Linked DNA regions of Homo sapiens. The protein of the gene in region 1 purifies or fractionates together with the protein of each later gene. This does not show direct contact. Each region holds a gene or a part of one and is shown on either strand. Other genes may lie near its edges.

Region 1 (4,689 bases):
TCTTAGCTTACTTTTCAATGGAACATTTTAGCCAGGTAGTATAAGTACAGGTGCGGGTAACCTCAGATAAATCAAGGTGTTATGCAGCTGTCTCTATATTAAAAATATTTGCTGACATCAGTGTAGACTTCATCTTGTAGTTCTTCAGTGTTTTCTTTCCTTATCTTTTGCTCATAAGATGGCTTTGTGTTTGGTTTGATATTATACTGAGAAAGCATATTAGAATCAAAGCACCAAGATTTCAAAAGTCCAGACTACTCTTCCCAAAGAGAAATGTGCAATCACAATAGCATGACATGGGTACAAATATAGAAGTATGTTATTAAAGTATTGAGAATTAGCTTTCCTAACCTCCCCACCTGCAATCTTTTACTCCTAATCTCCAAAAAATGAACAAATCATTGGCTCAAAATGGTCACAAATTGTATGTGGTGTTAAAAATCTATTATTTTTATTGTATATAAAATGTTGCCAGGTGTGGTGGCTCATGCCTGTAATCCCAGCACTTTGGGAGGCCAAGGCAGGTGGATCACTAGGTCAGGAGTTCAAGACCAGCCTGGCCAACATGGTGAAACCCCATCTCTACTAAAAATACAAAGATTAGCTGGGTGTGGTGGCGTGTGCCTGTAATCCCAGCTTCTCGGGAGGCTGAGGCATGAGAATCACTTGAACCTGGGAGGCAGAGGCTACAGCGAGCCAAGATGGTGCCATTGCACTCCAGCCTAGATGACAGAGCAAGACTCAGTCTCGAAAAAAAAAAAAAAGTTATACTAGTTGGGCACGGTGGCTCACACCTGTAATCCCAGCACTTTGGAAGGCCGAGGCAAGTGGACCACCTGAGGTCAGGAGTTCAAGACCAGCCTGGCCAACATGGTGAAACTCCATCTCTACTAAAAATAAAAAAATTAGCTGGGCGTGGTGGCAAGCGCCTGTAGTCCCAGCTACTCAGGCGGCTGAGGCAGGAGAATTGCTTGAACCTGGGATTCGCCACTGCACTCCAGCCTGGGCAACAGAGCAAGACACTGTTTCAAAAAAAAAAAAGTTATACCACTATTACTGTAATCATTAAGGGAAGAATACTTCTCATCAGAGTTTGTCTGCAGTAAAGTACTCTTGTCAGCTTTGTGTTCCTTTCTGTCCTATCTTATGTACAAACCGATCTCCATTATGTGTCACCTGCCTTCTAATGGCTGATCATCTTGATTCTTACATTACCTGAAACACAGTGAAAGTGTTAGTGAACTTAGAATAGTGGTTCTTAACTAGAGATTTACCCAGGGAGATTTTTTAAATCCTGATGTCCTGGCCACATCCCAGACTAATTAAATAAAAATCACTAAGGTTGAAAGCCAGTCCTCAGAATCTTTTAAAACTCCTTACGTGATTACAATGGGAAGCCAAAGTTAAAACCAATGAGTTAGAAAAAAAAAAACTATTATAATGAGCAGAAGCAAAACACCCAAGTGACGTTTGTAACATCACTCTCTCACATCTACTTTCAGGTGTTTCGGCATGGAGACCGAAGTCCCATTGACACCTTTCCCACTGACCCCATAAAGGAATCCTCATGGCCACAAGGATTTGGCCAACTCACCCAGGTTGGTTGGACTTTTAGCTAAAGATTGTTGATGAAGCTGGGTGTGGTGGCTCACGCCTGTAATCCCAGCACTTTGGGAGGCCGAGGCAGGCGGATCAACTGAGGTCAGGAGTTCGAGACCAGCCTGGCCAACGTGGTGAAACCCTCTCTCTACTAAAAATACAAAAATTAGCCAGGATTGGTGGTGGGCACCTGTAATCCCAGCTACTCGGGAGTCTGAGGTAGGAGAATCGCTTGAACCTGGGAAGTGGAGGTTGCAGTGAGCCAAGATCGCACCATTGCACTCCAGCCTGGGCAACAAGAGTAAAACTCTATCTCAAAAAAAAAAAAAAAAAAAAAAAGATTCTTGATGAGTCTCAAGGGGAAATGTATATAGAATTGTCTGTTTTGATATTTTTTGCCCTTCTGGCTTTATTTAAATGTAAGAGATGTACATGAACAAAGACTATATGAGCTTAGAAATGCTGAAGAGAGCCAAGTGGTAATCATAAGCCAGGATTTGAATTTCTTAGGCTTCACATGAGAAAGTGAAAAATAGTCTTGTAATCAATAAGCTGAATCAACAGCATTGGGAAACATGATTCCCCAAAGTGCTGATATCAGAATATGATTTCTTGTCAGCTGGATATATTGGGATTTGACCTTCCTTATAAGTGGTCAGTTAAACACAGGGAGCCCTACTTTCTGAAGAGCATCTAAGGAGAAGGTGAACTGGGGAGCAAAGCCATCTTTAGTCACTGTTCCAAAGCCCTATTCCCTTTGCTTGTAAGATTGGATGACTCTTCTGTTTGGAGCCACAAGGCCAGGTGAATTGCTTCTGTCCTGATCTGTTTAAATATATTAATTAAGAAAATGTCACAGAATCTTTAGAGTAGAATGTCTCAAAAACTAATGGGTCTTAATCCTGCCAAAACATTGGGATTATCTGGAGAGGTTTAAAAAATATATTGATGTCTGCCTGGGAGGTTCTTATTTAATTGGTCTAGTATGTGTCCTGGGCATTGGGATTTTTAGAAGCTCCTTGGTGATCAGTTCACTCTAATGTGTAGCCGAGGCTGAGAATTTCTGCCCTGACTATATTTCATAGAGGAGAAAACTCAGGCAGGCTATTTGAGACCAGCATCTTCTGTCTCCCAGGTCAAAGCTCTTCTCACCATAGCCTACCCATCTTCTGTCCCTTTGAATGAAAGAGAGGCTACAAAAATTCAGATTTGCTTGTTAATACCTATGGCTCTGTATAGACTCCTGTTCTGTTGCTATGTTTTCCCATTAAGACCAAAAGATTCTTCTAGGCTGCAGGATCTGAGTTCTTCTTCTGAAGAACCTTGATTACCCATCAGATTCTATTAGGGCAGTATTTCTCAAGCTTCCATGTGCAAATGAATCACTTGGGAATCTTGTCAAAATGTAGATTCTAATTCAGCAGGTCTGATGTGGGACCTGCGATTCTGCATGTCTAACATACTCCCAAGGATGACAATGGCACTGGTACATGGACCACATTTGAAGTGACAAGGTTCTAGGGCTCAGATTCCTACCCTTGTCTAGGTACTTTTTTTTTTTTTTTTTTTTTTGAGATGGAGTCTCACTCTGTCCCCGCAGGCTGGAGTGCAGTGGCTCGATCTCAGCTCACTGCAGCCTCTGCCTCCCAGATTCAAGCAATTCTCGTGCCTCAGCCTCCCAAGTAGCTGGAACTACAGGAGAGCACCACCACGCCTGGCTAATTTTTTATATTTTTAGTAGAGATGGGGTTTCGCCATGTTGCCAAGGCTGGTCTCAAACTCCTGAGCTCAGGCAATCCACCCGCCTTGGCCTCCCAAAGTGCTAGAATTTCAGGCCTGAGCCACCACACCCAGCCTTGTCTAGGTACTTTAAATCTACATAATCATAAGATGATGGCTGTCTAGATCAGTGTCTAGGTACTTTTAATCTGCCTTGTCTAGGTATTTTTAATCTGCATAATCATAAGATGATGGCTGTCTAGATCAGTGGTTTTTAAAGTGTGGTCCCTGGACCAGCAGCATCACCATCACGTGGGAACTTCTCAGTAATGTAAATTCTTCACGCAATACCCAGTGAACCATAAACTTTGGAATTAAAGCCCAGAAGTCTGTGTTTTATTGAGTCCTCCAGGTGATTCTGTGCATGCTAAAGTGTGAAAATCACTGCTTCATACAGACGACTATTTAAAAAGTCAGCTGTAAGAACACAATTAGACCTAAAGTACCTGCTTCTCCGCTACTCAGGTCACGGTATATTATTCCTTTCCCACCTTGTCCCTATCGTAGATGGGAAGTGATTATAGTGGTGGTCAAGCAAATGACAAGTGTGACAAGCAAATGACAAGTGGGACCAAGCAGCAGCCACCGTAACAACCTCCTCTCTGGCTCCCAAAGCTCTAGTAAGGCTCTGGATTAAAGACAAACTTGAATGCTGCATTTCCAAAGCATGGTGCTCTACTACATGCATCTGAATCACTTGGGAGACTTGTTAAAATGCAGATGTCAGGGCCCCACTCAGGAACTAATGAGCTGGAATCTCTGATGGAGATGCTGAGGAATCTGCATTTCAACATGCACCGCTGGATAATTTTGTTTCTGATGCACGGTAATGGTTGTGGACCACTGAGCTAATGCAGTGCATCTCAGTGATTACTGTCCATCAGAAGCTTGTTAAAAAATATTCTTGAGCACCACCCCCAAAGGTTCTGGTTCAGTAGGTCAAGGGTGGGGCCCAAGAATTTGATTTCTATAATGCTTTTAAGTGAAGCCAATACAGACCACACTTAGAGTAACATGTTCTAATTTTTTTATGAACCAGGAATTAATAAACTGGGCAGATAGTAAAGCATTGCCCACAGAGGTTGAAAGAGACTTTCAGATTCATCGAGTCTAATCTCATCAGATGGTTGAGCTTCTTCCACAAAATCCCCACCAAGTGGGTCTCTTTGAATGCTCTACCAACAAGGATCCCACTACATCAGAGATGAACCATTTACTTAAATCAGATCAATCACCCAACTATCAACTAAGCACTTACTATGTGCAAGTCTCTATGTTAAGTGCTAATGAAGATAAATGAGTTTTCTCAGG
Region 2 (4,689 bases), on another chromosome or scaffold:
AACTATGGAGACAGTAAAAAGATCAGTGGAGGAGTTTGTGGGGAGGGAAGAGAGGAACAGATAGGTACATTACAGAGAATGTTTAGGGCAGTGTGACTATTCCGTATGATACAGTAATAGTGGGCATGTGTCACTATACAGTTGTCAAAATCCAATGTACAACACAATGAGTGAGCCCTAAAGTAAACTATGTATGGGTTTTAGCTAATGACAATATATTGGTTCAAATATTAATTGTAACAAATGTATCACACTATTACAAGATGTAAACAACAGAGCAAACTGAAGGAGAATGTGGGAACTGGGCAGGTTGCAATTAATTTTCCTGAAAACCTAAAACAAAATAAAGATACAATTTGTTTTTTTTTTTTTTTTGAGACGGAGTCTTGCGCTGTGGCCAGGCTGGAGTGCAGTGGCGCGATCTCGGCTCACTGCAAGCTCCGCCTCCCAGGTTCACGCCATTCTCCTGCCTCAGCCTCCCAAATAGCTGGGACTATAGACGCCCGCCACCACGCCCAGCTAATTTTTGTATTTTTAGTAGAGACGGGGTTTCACTGTGTTAGCCAGGATGGTCTCGATCTCCTGACCTCATGATCCGCCCGCCTCAGCCTCCCACAGTGCTGGGATTACGGAGTTTCACTCTGTTGCCCAGGTTGGAGTACAATGGCACGATCTTGGCTCACTGCAACCTCCACCTCCCAGGTCCAAGCGATTCTCCTGCCTCAGCCTCCCGAGTAGCTGGGATTACAGGCATGAGCCACCATGCCCGGCTAATTTTTGTATTTTTAGTAGAGACAGGGTTTCACCACGTTGGTCAGACTCGTCTTGAACTCCTGACCTCAGATGATCCACCCACCTCGGCCTCCCAAAGTGCTGGGATTACAGGCCTAAGCCACCATGTCTGGCCTATTTTTTTTTTTTTTTTGAGACAGAGTTTTGCTCGTCACCCAGGCTGGAGTGCAATGGCGCAACCTCGGCTCACCACAACCTCCACCTCCCAGGTTCAAGCGATTCTCCTGCCTCAGCCTCCTGAGTAGCTGGGATTACAGGTGCACACCACCATACCCGGCTAATTTTTGTATTTTTAGTTGAGCAAGACTGTCTAAAAAAAAAAAAAAAAGTTGTTTTCTGTTAATTTTAATATCTGTGTTAGTTCTGAGACAGTTTTGATTGATTTTTCTCCTCATTTGGGTTATATTTTTCTGCTTCTTTTATGTCTGCAAATTTTTGATAGGATGTAGACTTGTGGATTTTCCCTTGTTGGGTGCTGGTTATTTTTGCATTCCTATAAAATATCTAGCTTTATTCTGAGATGTAGTTAAGTAATTTGGAAACTCTGGTTTTTTCTGTTCTTGCTGTTTAGATTTGTTAAATGGAACCAGAGTGTTGTTATTCCTCATTACTGAGGCAAGACTGAGTACTCTTCCTAATCCCACTGCAATCTCCGCCGCCCAGGTTCCAGCAATTCTCCTGCCTCTGCCTCCCAAGTAGCTGAGATTACAGGTGGGCGCCACCACGCCCAGCTAATGTTTGTATTTTTAGTAGCAACAGGGCATCACCATGTTGGCCAGGCTGGTCTCGAACTCCTGACCTCAGGTGATCCGCCCACCCCAGCCTCCCAAAGTGCTGGGAATACAGGCGTGAGCCACCGCATCTGGCCTTTTTTTTTTTTTTTAGATGGAGTTTAGCTCTTGTTGCCCAGGCGGAAGTGCAATGGTGCGATCTCGGCTCACTGCAACCTCCACCTCCCGGGTTCCAGCGATTCTCCCACCTCAGCCTCCCAAGTAGCTGGGATTACAGGCATGACCCATCACACCCAGCTAATTTTTTGTATTTAGTAGAGATGGGTTTTCACCATGTTGGTCAGGCTAGTCTCAAACTCCTGACTTCAGGTGATCCACCCACCTCGGCCTCCCAAAGTGTGAGATTACAGACGTGCGCCACCGCGCCGGCCAAAGAATTTTAAATGAACATCTTGTGGAACAACTTCAAGCAGCAAGAGGCACATGTAATAGGAGTCTCCAAAGGGAGTAACAGACCAAAAAAACTTGAAGAAATAATAACCTTAAAATGTCCAAATTTGATAAACATTATAAATCTGCAGATTCAAGAAGCTCAACAAAACCCACATACAAATAACATGAACTACATCAGCCTGGCGCAGTGGCTCACGCCTATAATCCCAGCACTTTGGGAGGCCAAGGCGGGCAGATCACGAGGTCAGGAGATCGAGACCATCCTGGCTAACACAGTGAAACCCCGTCTCTACTAAAAATACAAAAACTTAGCCGGGCGTGGTGGTAGGCGCCTGTAGTCCCAGCTCCTTGGGAGGCTGAGGCAGGAGAATGGCGTGAACCCGGGAGGCGGAGCTTGCAGTGAGCCGAGATCACGCCACTGCACTCCAGCCTGGGCGACACAGTGAGACTCCGTCTCAAAAAAAAAAAAAGAACTACATCAAAACACATAATAATTTGCTCAAAAACAGTGATAAAATCTTAAAAGCAACCAGACATACCCTATAAATATATATACCTATGTACCCACGAAAATAAAATTTTTTTTAATTTAAAGAAAAAAGCAACCAGACAAAAAAGACAGATTAGGTACAAAAGAACAAAAATAAGAATAACAGTGTATTTCTTGTCAGAAACAATGTCAGCAGACTGGGCACAGTGGCTCATGCTTGTAATCCCAGCACTTTGGGAAACAGAGGCAGGTGAATAACCTGAGGTCAGGAGTGCAAGACCAGCCTGACCAATATGGCGAAACCCCGTCTCTACTAAAAATACAAAAATTAGCCAGGCGTGGTGGTGCGCGCCTGTAGTCCCAGCTACTCAGAAGGCTGAGACAGGAGAATTGCTTGAACCCGGGAGGCAGAGGTTGAAGTGAGCCGAGATCGCACCACTGCACTCCAGCCTGAGCAACAGAGAGACTCCCTCTCAAAAAAAAAAAAAAGAAACAATGTCAGCAAAAAGGCAAAGGGGCAACACCTTTGAAGTACTGAGAAAAATACGTTGGCCTAGAACTCTACACTAAGAGTAAATATTTTCCAAAACAAAGGCAAAATAAAGATTTTTCAGATGTATGAAAGCTAAAAGAATTCAGTACCAACACTCCAGCACTTCAAAATATCAAAGGTGGCCAGGTGTGGTGGCTCACCCCTGTAATCCCAGCACTTTGGGAGGCTGAGACAGGCGGATCACGAGGTCAGGAGTTCCAGACCAGCCTGGCCAACATTGTGAAACCCTGTCTCTACTAAAAATACAAAAATTATCCAGGCATGGTGGTGTGCACCTGTACTCCCAGCTAATGAGGAGGCTGAGGCAGGAGAATTGCTTGAACCTGGGAGGCGGAGACTGTAGTGACCAAGATGGTGCCACTGCACTCCAGCCTGGGCAACAGAGTGAGACTACATCTCAAAAAAAAAAAAAAAAAAAGGACAAACAGGTGTGAAGGCATGCTTATAGGATTGGGCTAAAAACAGAAGTAATGGATGAAAGTCTGTATAAGAAACACATGACTTACCCCTCCCGATCCTTACAAAGAAATCTGTGGAGAGGCTCTATGCCCATAGCTTACAAGGCATAGATGAGACTGGGGCTAAGAAGCCCTACTGATAGCTAGGGGATAGTGAATGCCCACCTTCTGAACAGTGAGATCCCCAATGCCATTTCCCTGCTCAACTCCCAGAACAACAGCCAGGTCTGTGCCACCCATACAGGAGTAAGGAAGTAAAGAACAGAAGTGGTAACACATAAGAGCATCAGCCTCTGGGAAGTGAAAACTGGGTAGAGAGGAGAATAACACACATGACAGCTGCTTTCTGTTAGAAGCCTTACAGTAGTACCTGACCTTTTAAACTATATTCATGCATTTTATTTAAGAATCTTAAAAACAATCAATATGTATTAATTTTAAATCATTCACTTTGATAAAAAGTTGTTTTCACATCTTCCTTCCTTTTATTGAAAAAAAATTTCAGAAAATAACAGTTCATAAAAGACACAAACAAATCAACAGGTATATACCAGTGGAAAACACAATATGAAACTAAAAATGCCATTGGCTTTTTTTTTTTTTTTTTGAGACGGAGTCTCGTACTGTCGCCCGAGCTGGAGGACAGTGGTGTGATCTCGGCTCACTGCAACCTCTGCCTCCCGGGTTCAAGCGTTTCTCCTGCCTCAGCCTCCCAAGTAGCTGGGATTACAGGCACCCACCACCACACCCAGCTAATTTTTTGTATTTTTAGTAGAGACAGGGTTTCACTATGTTGGCCAGGCTGGTCTCAAACTCCTGACCTTGTGATCTGCCCACCCTGGCCTCCCAAAGTGTTGGTATTACAGACGTGAGCCACAGCACCCGGCTGCCACTGGCTTCTTTAATTGGTTAAGAGCACAAAATGTAACAGGCAGAAGGTCTGTTTCAAACAAATTAAAAAGCTATGTGTTTTTTAAATTCTCCCCAAGTTGGATATACACACACCCACAAAAATAGTGTGTGAAGGAAAGCTGTCATACACAGTAAGTTGTATCCTGAATTATTCAAGGAAACACATGTTGAAATAGGAATTAACAGAGTCAGCAACAGATTAATATTTTTTAACTGAGTCTAAAAATGCTACATAGCCCTAAGGAATACTACATAAAGTACTGCTAGGTACAAACAAAAAAGTCTGTATAGCTTTTAGCA
Region 3 (4,689 bases), on another chromosome or scaffold:
CTACCAACAATGCCTTGTACTTGCCTGCAAATAGTTGTAGATGTTGCAGGTAGCTTTGGCCTCCATAACCAAGAACTCAATATTAGTTTAACTTCAATAGGTTTATTGGTAAGTATCATTGTCCTTAGAATATAATATAATTTAGAAATCATTGTTATTCAGTTGGGAGTGAATGCTAAGCAAATATACTTTTAGCTCTTTGCAAATTGTTTATATGGCTTTTAAATTTCAAACTTACGTCTGGGTGAAGGATTAAATAACATCACTTAAATATTAATAACAAAATGTTTGAAATAATTTTCATACATTGAGCTGAAGTTTGGGTTTTACAGGGTTTGTCATGAAAGGGTTTAGTAAACAATAGTATATACAAGGGAAATCTTCAGTTGACTTTTATGTGAACCAATTACATTAGCCCCTGACAAGAAAATCAGCTTGTACTTTGAAGCCTTGAAGCCAAGCATTGACTTTTTATCTTTAGCCATGAAAGTCCTACATGACATCTTCAAGTACAAGGCTGTTTCAGGCTGGGCATGGTAGCTGATGCCTGTAATCCCAGCACTTTGGGAGGCTGAGGTGGGAGGATTGCTGAGGCCAGGAGTTTGAGACCAGGCTGGGCAATAAAATGAGACTCCCATCTCTACTAAAAATTAGCTGTGTATGGTGGTGCACACCTGTAGTCTCAGCTACATGGGAGGCTGGGATGGGAGGATTGCTTGAGCCCAGGAATTGGAGGCTGCAGTGAGCTATGATCACAGCACTGCACTCCAGCCTTGGCAACAGACCCAGACCTTGTCTCTGTAAAAAAAAATGATAATAATAAAAAGGCTGTTTTGTCTACATTGAAAATCTGTTGGTCAGTGTAGCCACCTTCATCGGTGATCTTAGCTAGATCTGGATAACTTGCTACAGGTTCTACATCAGCACTTGCTGCTTCACCTTGTACTTGTAGGTTATGGTGATAACGTCTTTTCTTAAACCTCATGAACTAGCCCCTGCTAGCTTCAGACTTTTCTTCTGCAGCTTCCTCACCTTGCTCAGCTTTTATAGAATTGAGGAGAATTAGGGTCTTTCTCTGGATTAGGCGTTGGCTTAAGGGAATCTTGTAGCTGGTTTGACCTTCTATCCAGACAGCTGAAAGTTTGTTGATACCATCAATAAGCCTGCTGTACTTTCTTCTTTCTTTCTTTTTTTTTTTTTTTTTTTTTTTTTCTGAGACGGAGTCTTGCGCTTGTTACCCAGGCTGAAGTGCAGTGGCATGATCTTGGCTCACTGCAACCTCTGCCTCCTGGGTTCAAGTGATTCTCCTGCCTCAGCCTCCCATGTAGCTGGAATTATAGGCGCCCGCCATGATGTACTTTCTTATAGTTTGTTTGTTCTTTGGAGTAGCACTTTTCGTTTCCTTCAAGAACTTATCCTGTGCATTCACAACTTGGCTCACTGGCACAAGAGGCCCAGGTTTTGGCCTGTCTTGATTTTCGACATGCCTTCCTCACTAAGCTTAATTATTTCTAGCTTTTGATTGAAAGTGAGACAAATGCGACTCTTCCTTTTACTTGAACACTTACAGGTCATTGTAGGGTTATTAATTGGCCTAATTTCACTGTTGTTGTATCTCAAGAAATAGGGAGGCCTGAGAAGAAGTAAAAAGATGAGGAAACAACCTGACGATGAAACAGTCAGAAAACTCACATTAAGTTTGCCATCTTACATAGGTGCGGCTCATGCACCCCAAAATAGTTGCAATAGTCACATCAAAGATCACGGATCATAGATCACCATAACAGACATAGTAATAATTAAAAAGTTTGAAATATTACAAGTATTACTAAAATGTGGCACAGAGACACAAAGTGATCACATGCTGCTGGAAAAAAACGGTACCAACAGACTTGTTCAATGCAGGGTTGCCACAAACCTTTATAAATTGCAATTTATAAAAATTACAATTATCTGTGAAGCACAACAAAGAGAAGTGCAATAAAACAAGGCATCTCTGTAATGAAATCTTAGAGAATTGTTAACATTACATGAAATAAACATGCACAGAATTGTTTTCAACATATATTTTAAGGCAATTATTTAGAATCTTTTAAATGTATATTAAAACTCAGAAGTTTTATAAATTTGAACTTTAAATTTTCCTCACAAGCTAGATAAGTTACTACATTCATCTCTTCCTACGTTCAGCTCTTAATATTTGTGGCTTCTGCATCTGTAGATTCAACCAACTATAAATAGAAAATTTTTTTTTAAAACAAGATAGTTGTATCTGTACTGAACATGTACAGGCTTTCTTGTCAATATTACCTAAATACAGTATAACTAGTTACATAGCATTTACCTTATGTTAGGTATTAAAAGTTACCTAGTATTATTCAAAGTATACAGGAGGATGTGTGTAGATTATATTCAAATACTACACCATTTTATATAACAGACTTGAGGATTTGTGGATTTGGGTATGCAGTGGGAGGTCCTGAAACCAATCCCCCACGGATACCGAGGGACAACTGTATTTTACTATTACTATTATTTTTCCCATTTTTACATGGGAAAAAATGTAAGCATGTTGCATATATGATTGCAAGTGGGTGGCTAGTGCAACATTGCTTAAATTACTGCTGGATAGCACCTCCTTTATTTTACATTTATGTTCACAGTACTGGATTCTCTACATTTTAACCATTGGCATAATTATCATTAATATAAGATATGTTTGGAAACAGTAATTGCTCGTGTATGAAATTACAAACTTATTAAACAATATTAAGGAATTGTTAACATTGTTAGGGTGATAATGATATTATAGTTTTTTTTTATAGTTAACAGTTGTTATATTTAGGTGGTAGATACATCAATATGTTCAAGTTCCTTATACTATTCTTGGTTTTTTGTATGTTCTTGACATTTTTTATAATAAAAAAGTAAAAAAAAAAAAGTTAGCTCAAGATTGTTTCCCCACTTTCTCCTGAAATAATGTAGAGACACTGACAGAAGAAGAGATGTTTTCATTGAATCTATTCTACTAGGAAAGAGATTTTTGAAGTAATGTTTTTAAAGTTTTACTCTGAAAGGTAAAACAGCCACATGTTGCATATTTATGTGTTTAAAACAAAACCTTGGATGAACTAATATTTTTCTACTTTGCTTTTTAGTGGAATATTTCAGATTATTTTTTCCAAAGAGGGGAAACTATTGAAAAAGAACTAAATAAGGAAGAGGCAGCACAGCAAAAGCAGGCAGAAGAGAAAGGAGTTGTTTTAAATCGGCCATTCCACCCTGCACCGCCATTTGATTGCTTGTGGTTATGTCTTTATGCAAAATTGGGTGAACTATGTGTGGATCCCCGTCCTGCTGTCAGGAAGAGTGCAGGGCAAACTCTGTTTTCTACAATTGGTGCGCATGGAACTTTATTACAGCATTCAACCTGGCACACTGTTATCTGGAAGGTATTGTAAAATAGATTGGACTATCAGCTTTTAATGAGTCATGCTTATATATTAATACTTTTTCAGTTAAACTTATTTCTTTTAATTTTTAAAGAATTTCCATGCATTTGTGTATTTGACAAAACAGGAAATAACTGTGTCATATTGTAAATTGTACCTCATAAAGAGCAAATTAAATATTAACAGCCTTATCTCTGTTTCTGTCTTCATCTCTTATTATTATATCTCTCGTGATTTCTGCCTTTGCCTTTCTGTCTCCTTTTTTTCCCCCAGTTTTCCCAAATGGTAAAAACCAGGAGTTACTAAACAACAAAGGGTAATCAATCCCTTACCATAGAGTAGAAAGCTTTTGGGGTTTTTGTTTGTTTTACTTTTGAGGTCTACTTATAGATATGTAATTTAAATATAATCAAAAGAGAATTTTATTAACAGATGAATATCAATAGCAATGAAGTTTATTTGTAGACTCACCAAACAAAAGTAACCTCCAAATGGTATATTGTACATGTAATGTTTATTCATTAAATTACAATTTCATTTTTTTCTTCTTTTGAAACTTTCTAATAAAATCAGCAGTTTATTAGTGATCATTCCCTCTTTGCTAAAAGTCTCATCTTTTTTGTTCCATCTGTTCCATTATAATAAAATTCTGTTTATAATCCTTTCACTTGCTTTTGTGAGTTTTTCAAATTAATAGACCCCAAAATGTCTTCTTAAAAAATTAATGGGCTGGGCATGGTGACTGACACCTGTAATCCCAGTACTTTAGGAGGCTGAGGCAGCAGGATCACCTGAGGTCAGGGGTTCAAGACCAACCTGGCCAATATGGTGAAACCCCATATCTATTATAGTAAAAGCCCTCTTTCCTTCTGTCTTGTATTTCAGTTCCATCCCATAGTTCCTCCTCAGATCACAAACATGCTTAATTCTCCCATACAGTTTGTTTTTAATCTAATACTTTTCTGATTCTAATTTTCCTTTCAAGCAACTTCATTTTTTATCTTCTTGCTGCCTAATTCTTAATGATTTTTTTCTCACACACCTTGCATTGTCTTATTTTCTGTAATTGATTTCCAGACTATTCTACTTCAGTCTCTTAAACATTAGAGAATAACAGAATCACCTTAAAGACTTGTTAAAGCACAGATTTTTGAGCCACTATTGTCAGCCCTCCCTGAACTTGAGTTTCTGATTATTTTGGCCTGGAGTGAGTCCTGAGAATTTGAATTTCTATCAA
Region 4 (5,359 bases), on another chromosome or scaffold:
GATCACTCAACTAGAAACAGGGGAAGATTTTATCAAATTCTTTTTTTTTTTTTTTTTTTTTTTGAGACAGAGTCTCACTCTGTTGCCCAGGCTGGAGTGCAGTGGCGCAGTCTCGGCTCACTGCAACCTCTGCCTCCCAGGTTCAAGTGATTCTCCTGCCTCAGCCTCCTGAGTTGCTGGGATTACAGGCATGCAGCACCATGCCCAGCTAATTTTTGTATTTTTAGTAGAGATGGGGTTTCACCAATGTTTGCCAGGCTGGCCTCGAACTCCTGACCTGGTGATCCACCTGCCTCAGCCTCCCAAAGTGCTGGGATTACAGGCGTCAGCCACCGCGCCCAGCCACTTTTGTCAAATTCTTGAGACACAGCTCGGGCTGGATCAAGTGAGCTACTCTGGTTTTATTGAACAGCTGAAATAACCAACTTTTTGGAAATTGATGAAATCTTACGGAGTTAACAGTGGAGGTACCAGGGCTCTTAAGAGTTCCCGATTCTCTTCTGAGACTACAAATTGTGATTTTGCATGCCACCTTAATCTTTTTTTTTTTTTTTTTAAATCGAGGTTTCAGTCTCATTCTATTTCCCAGGCTGGAGTTCAATGGCGTGATCACAGCTCACTGTAGCCTTGAACTCCTGGCCTTAAGAGATTCTCCTGCTTCGGTCTCCCAATAGCTAAGACTACAGTAGTCCACCACCATATCCAGATAATTTTTAAATTTTTTGGGGGGCCGGGCACAGTGGCTCACGCCTGTAATCCCAACACCATGGGAGGCTGAGATGGGTGGATCACGAGGTCAGGAGTTTGAGACCAGCCTGACCAACATGGTGAAACTCTGTCTCTACTAAAAAAAAAAAAAATAGAAAAATTAGCCGGGCGTGGTGGCACACGGCACCTGTAATCCCAGCTACTGAGGAGGCTGAGGCAGGAGAATCACTTGAACCCAGAAGGCAGAGGTTGCAATGAGCCGAGATTGCGCCACTGCACTCCAGCCTGGGTGACAGAGTGAGACTCTGTCTCAAAAAAAAAAAATTTTTTTTTTTTTTTTGTAGAGATGGATCTTGCTTTGTTTCTCTGGTTGGCCTTGAACTCCTGGCTTCAAGTGATCCTCCTACCTTGGCCTCGGAAAGTGTTGGGATTACAGGCGTGAGCCACCATGACTGACCTGTCGTTTAATCTTGAGGTACATAAACCTGGCTCCTAAAGGCTAAATATTTTGTTGGAGAAGGGGCATTGGATTTTGCATGAGGATGATTCTGACCTGGGAGGGCAGGTCAGCAGGCATCTCTGTTGCACAGATAGAGTGCACAGGTCTGGAGAACAAGGAGTGGGGGGTTATTGGAATTCCACATTGTTTGCTGCACGTTGGATTTTGAAATGCTAGGGAACTTTGGGAGACTCATATTTCTGGGCTAGAGGATCTGTGGACCACAAGATCTTTTTATGATGACAGTAGCAATGTATCTGTGGAGCTGGATTCTGGGTTGGGAGTGCAAGGAAAAGAATGTACTAAATGCCAAGACATCTATTTCAGGAGCATGAGGAATAAAAGTTCTAGTTTCTGGTCTCAGAGTGGTGCAGGGATCAGGGAGTCTCACAATCTCCTGAGTGCTGGTGTCTTAGGGCACACTGGGTCTTGGAGTGCAAAGGATCTAGGCACGTGAGGCTTTGTATGAAGAATCGGGGATCGTACCCACCCCCTGTTTCTGTTTCATCCTGGGCGTGTCTCCTCTGCCTTTGTCCCCTAGATGAAGTCTCCATGAGCTACAGGGCCTGGTGCATCCAGGGTGATCTAGTAATTGCAGAACAGCAAGTGCTAGCTCTCCCTCCCCTTCCACAGCTCTGGGTGTGGGAGGGGGTTGTCCAGCCTCCAGCAGCATGGGGAGGGCCTTGGTCAGCCTCTGGGTGCCAGCAGGGCAGGGGCGGAGTCCTGGGGAATGAAGGTTTTATAGGGCTCCTGGGGGAGGCTCCCCAGCCCCAAGCTTACCACCTGCACCCGGAGAGCTGTGTCACCATGTGGGTCCCGGTTGTCTTCCTCACCCTGTCCGTGACGTGGATTGGTGAGAGGGGCCATGGTTGGGGGGATGCAGGAGAGGGAGCCAGCCCTGACTGTCAAGCTGAGGCTCTTTCCCCCCCAACCCAGCACCCCAGCCCAGACAGGGAGCTGGGCTCTTTTCTGTCTCTCCCAGCCCCACTCCAAGCCCATACCCCCAGCCCCTCCATATTGCAACAGTCCTCACTCCCACACCAGGTCCCCGCTCCCTCCCACTTACCCCAGAACTTTCTCCCCATTGCCCAGCCAGCTCCCTGCTCCCAGCTGCTTTACTAAAGGGGAAGTTCCTGGGCATCTCCGTGTTTCTCTTTGTGGGGCTCAAAACCTCCAAGGACCTCTCTCAATGCCATTGGTTCCTTGGACCGTATCACTGGTCCACCTCCTGAGCCCCTCAATCCTATCACAGTCTACTGACTTTTCCCATTCAGCTGTGAGTGCCCAACCCTATCCCAGAGACCTTGATGCTTGGCCTCCCAATCTTGCCCTAGGATACCCAGATGCCAACCAGACACCTCCTTCTTCCTAGCCAGGCTATCTGGCCTGAGACAACAAATGGGTCCCTCAGTCTGGCAATGGGACTCTGAGAACTCCTCATTCCCTGACTCTTAGCCCCAGACTCTTCATTCAGTGGCCCACATTTTCCTTAGGAAAAACATGAGCATCCCCAGCCACAACTGCCAGCTCTCTGATTCCCCAAATCTGCATCCTTTTCAAAACCTAAAAACAAAAAGAAAAACAAATAAAACAAAACCAACTCAGACCAGAACTGTTTTCTCAACCTGGGACTTCCTAAACTTTCCAAAACCTTCCTCTTCCAGCAACTGAACCTCGCCATAAGGCACTTATCCCTGGTTCCTAGCACCGCTTATCCCCTCAGAATCCACAACTTGTACCAAGTTTCCCTTCTCCCAGTCCAAGACCCCAAATCACCACAAAGGACCCAATCCCCAGACTCAAGATATGGTCTGGGCGCTGTCTTGTGTCTCCTACCCTGATCCCTGGGTTCAACTCTGCTCCCAGAGCATGAAGCCTCTCCACCAGCACCAGCCACCAACCTGCAAACCTAGGGAAGATTGACAGAATTCCCAGCCTTTCCCAGCTCCCCCTGCCCATGTCCCAGGACTCCCAGCCTTGGTTCTCTGCCCCCGTGTCTTTTCAAACCCACATCCTAAATCCATCTCCTATCCGAGTCCCCCAGTTCCTCCTGTCAACCCTGATTCCCCTGATCTAGCACCCCCTCTGCAGGTGCTGCACCCCTCATCCTGTCTCGGATTGTGGGAGGCTGGGAGTGCGAGAAGCATTCCCAACCCTGGCAGGTGCTTGTGGCCTCTCGTGGCAGGGCAGTCTGCGGCGGTGTTCTGGTGCACCCCCAGTGGGTCCTCACAGCTGCCCACTGCATCAGGAAGTGAGTAGGGGCCTGGGGTCTGGGGAGCAGGTGTCTGTGTCCCAGAGGAATAACAGCTGGGCATTTTCCCCAGGATAACCTCTAAGGCCAGCCTTGGGACTGGGGGAGAGAGGGAAAGTTCTGGTTCAGGTCACATGGGGAGGCAGGGTTGGGGCTGGACCACCCTCCCCATGGCTGCCTGGGTCTCCATCTGTGTTCCTCTATGTCTCTTTGTGTCGCTTTCATTATGTCTCTTGGTAACTGGCTTCGGTTGTGTCTCTCCGTGTGACTATTTTGTTCTCTCTCTCCCTCTCTTCTCTGTCTTCAGTCTCCATATCTCCCCCTCTCTCTGTCCTTCTCTGGTCCCTCTCTAGCCAGTGTGTCTCACCCTGTATCTCTCTGCCAGGCTCTGTCTCTCGGTCTCTGTCTCACCTGTGCCTTCTCCCTACTGAGCACACGCATGGGATGGGCCTGGGGGGACCCTGAGAAAAGGAAGGGCTTTGGCTGGGCGCGGTGGCTCACACCTGTAATCCCAGCACTTTGGGAGGCCAAGGCAGGTAGATCACCTGAGGTCAGGAGTTCGAGACCAGCCTGGCCAACTGGTGAAACCCCATCTCTACTAAAAATACAAAAAATTAGCCAGGCGTGGTGGCGCATGCCTGTAGTCCCAGCTACTCAGGAGGCTGAGGGAGGAGAATTGCTTGAACCTGGGAGGTGGAGGTTGCAGTGAGCCGAGACCGTGCCACTGCACTCCAGCCTGGGTGACAGAGTGAGACTCCGCCTCAAAAAAAAAAAAAAAAAAAAAGAAAAGAAAAGAAAAGAAAAGGAAGTGTTTTATCCCTGATGTGTGTGGGTATGAGGGTATGAGAGGGCCCCTCTCACTCCATTCCTTCTCCAGGACATCCCTCCACTCTTGGGAGACACAGAGAAGGGCTGGTTCCAGCTGGAGCTGGGAGGGGCAATTGAGGGAGGAGGAAGGAGAAGGGGGAAGGAAAACAGGGTATGGGGGAAAGGACCCTGGGGAGCGAAGTGGAGGATACAACCTTGGGCCTGCAGGCCAGGCTACCTACCCACTTGGAAACCCACGCCAAAGCCGCATCTACAGCTGAGCCACTCTGAGGCCTCCCCTCCCCAGCGGTCCCCACTCAGCTCCAAAGTCTCTCTCCCTTTTCTCTCCCACACTCTATCATCCCCCGGATTCCTCTCTACTTGGTTCTCATTCTTCCTTTGACTTCCTGCTTCCCTTTCTCATTCATCTGTTTCTCACTTTCTGCCTGGTTTTGTTCTTCTCTCTCTCTTTCTCTGGCCCATGTCTGTTTCTCTATGTTTCTGTCTTTTCTTTCTCATCCTGTGTATTTTCGGCTCACCTTGTTTGTCACTGTTCTCCCCTCTGCCCTTTCATTCTCTCTGTCCTTTTACCCTCTTCCTTTTTCCCTTGGTTTCTCTCAGTTTCTGTATCTGCCCTTCACCCTCTCACACTGCTGTTTCCCAACTCGTTGTCTGTATTTTTGGCCTGAACTGTGTCTTCCCCAACCCTGTGTTTTTCTCACTGTTTCTTTTTCTCTTTTGGAGCCTCCTCCTTGCTCCTCTGTCCCTTCTCTCTTTCCTTATCATCCTCGCTCCTCATTCCTGCGTCTGCTTCCTCCCCAGCAAAAGCGTGATCTTGCTGGGTCGGCACAGCCTGTTTCATCCTGAAGACACAGGCCAGGTATTTCAGGTCAGCCACAGCTTCCCACACCCGCTCTACGATATGAGCCTCCTGAAGAATCGATTCCTCAGGCCAGGTGATGACTCCAGCCACGACCTCATGCTGCTCCGCCTGTCAGAGCCTGCCGAGCTCACGGATGCTGTGAAGGTCATGGACCTGCCCACCCAGGAGCCAGCACTGGGGACCACCTGCTACGCCTCAGGCTGGGGCAGCA

The links.
Region 2: the proteins of ACP3 (region 1) and ATL3 purify together in Homo sapiens (affinity purification with mass spectrometry, with the first as the bait; one large-scale study listed by BioGRID). This does not show direct contact.
Region 3: the proteins of ACP3 (region 1) and MON2 purify together in Homo sapiens (affinity purification with mass spectrometry, with the first as the bait; one large-scale study listed by BioGRID). This does not show direct contact.
Region 4: the proteins of ACP3 (region 1) and KLK3 purify together in Homo sapiens (affinity purification with mass spectrometry, with the first as the bait; one large-scale study listed by BioGRID). This does not show direct contact.

What each region holds. Positions count from the first base shown.
Region 1 is NC_000003.12:132,326,765-132,331,453, forward strand, and holds part of ACP3 (prostatic acid phosphatase isoform PAP precursor), read left to right. Parts: intron 1-1,502; coding exon 1,503-1,598; intron 1,599-4,689. UniProt on the Homo sapiens protein: A non-specific tyrosine phosphatase that dephosphorylates a diverse number of substrates under acidic conditions (pH 4-6) including alkyl, aryl, and acyl orthophosphate monoesters and phosphorylated proteins.
Region 2 is NC_000011.10:63,653,791-63,658,479, forward strand, and holds part of ATL3 (atlastin-3), read right to left. Parts: intron 1-4,689. UniProt on the Homo sapiens protein: Atlastin-3 (ATL3) is a membrane-anchored GTPase that mediates the GTP-dependent fusion of endoplasmic reticulum (ER) membranes, maintaining the continuous ER network. It facilitates the formation of three-way junctions where ER tubules intersect.
Region 3 is NC_000012.12:62,549,723-62,554,411, forward strand, and holds part of MON2 (protein MON2 homolog), read left to right. Parts: coding exon 1-108; intron 109-3,158; coding exon 3,159-3,452; intron 3,453-4,689. UniProt on the Homo sapiens protein: Plays a role in regulating membrane trafficking of cargo proteins. Together with ATP9A and DOP1B, regulates SNX3 retromer-mediated endosomal sorting of WLS away from lysosomal degradation.
Region 4 is NC_000019.10:50,852,942-50,858,300, forward strand, and holds the start of KLK3 (prostate-specific antigen isoform 1 preproprotein), read left to right. Parts: upstream 1-1,973; 5' UTR 1,974-2,014; coding exon 2,015-2,060; intron 2,061-3,298; coding exon 3,299-3,458; intron 3,459-5,087; coding exon 5,088-5,359. UniProt on the Homo sapiens protein: Hydrolyzes semenogelin-1 thus leading to the liquefaction of the seminal coagulum.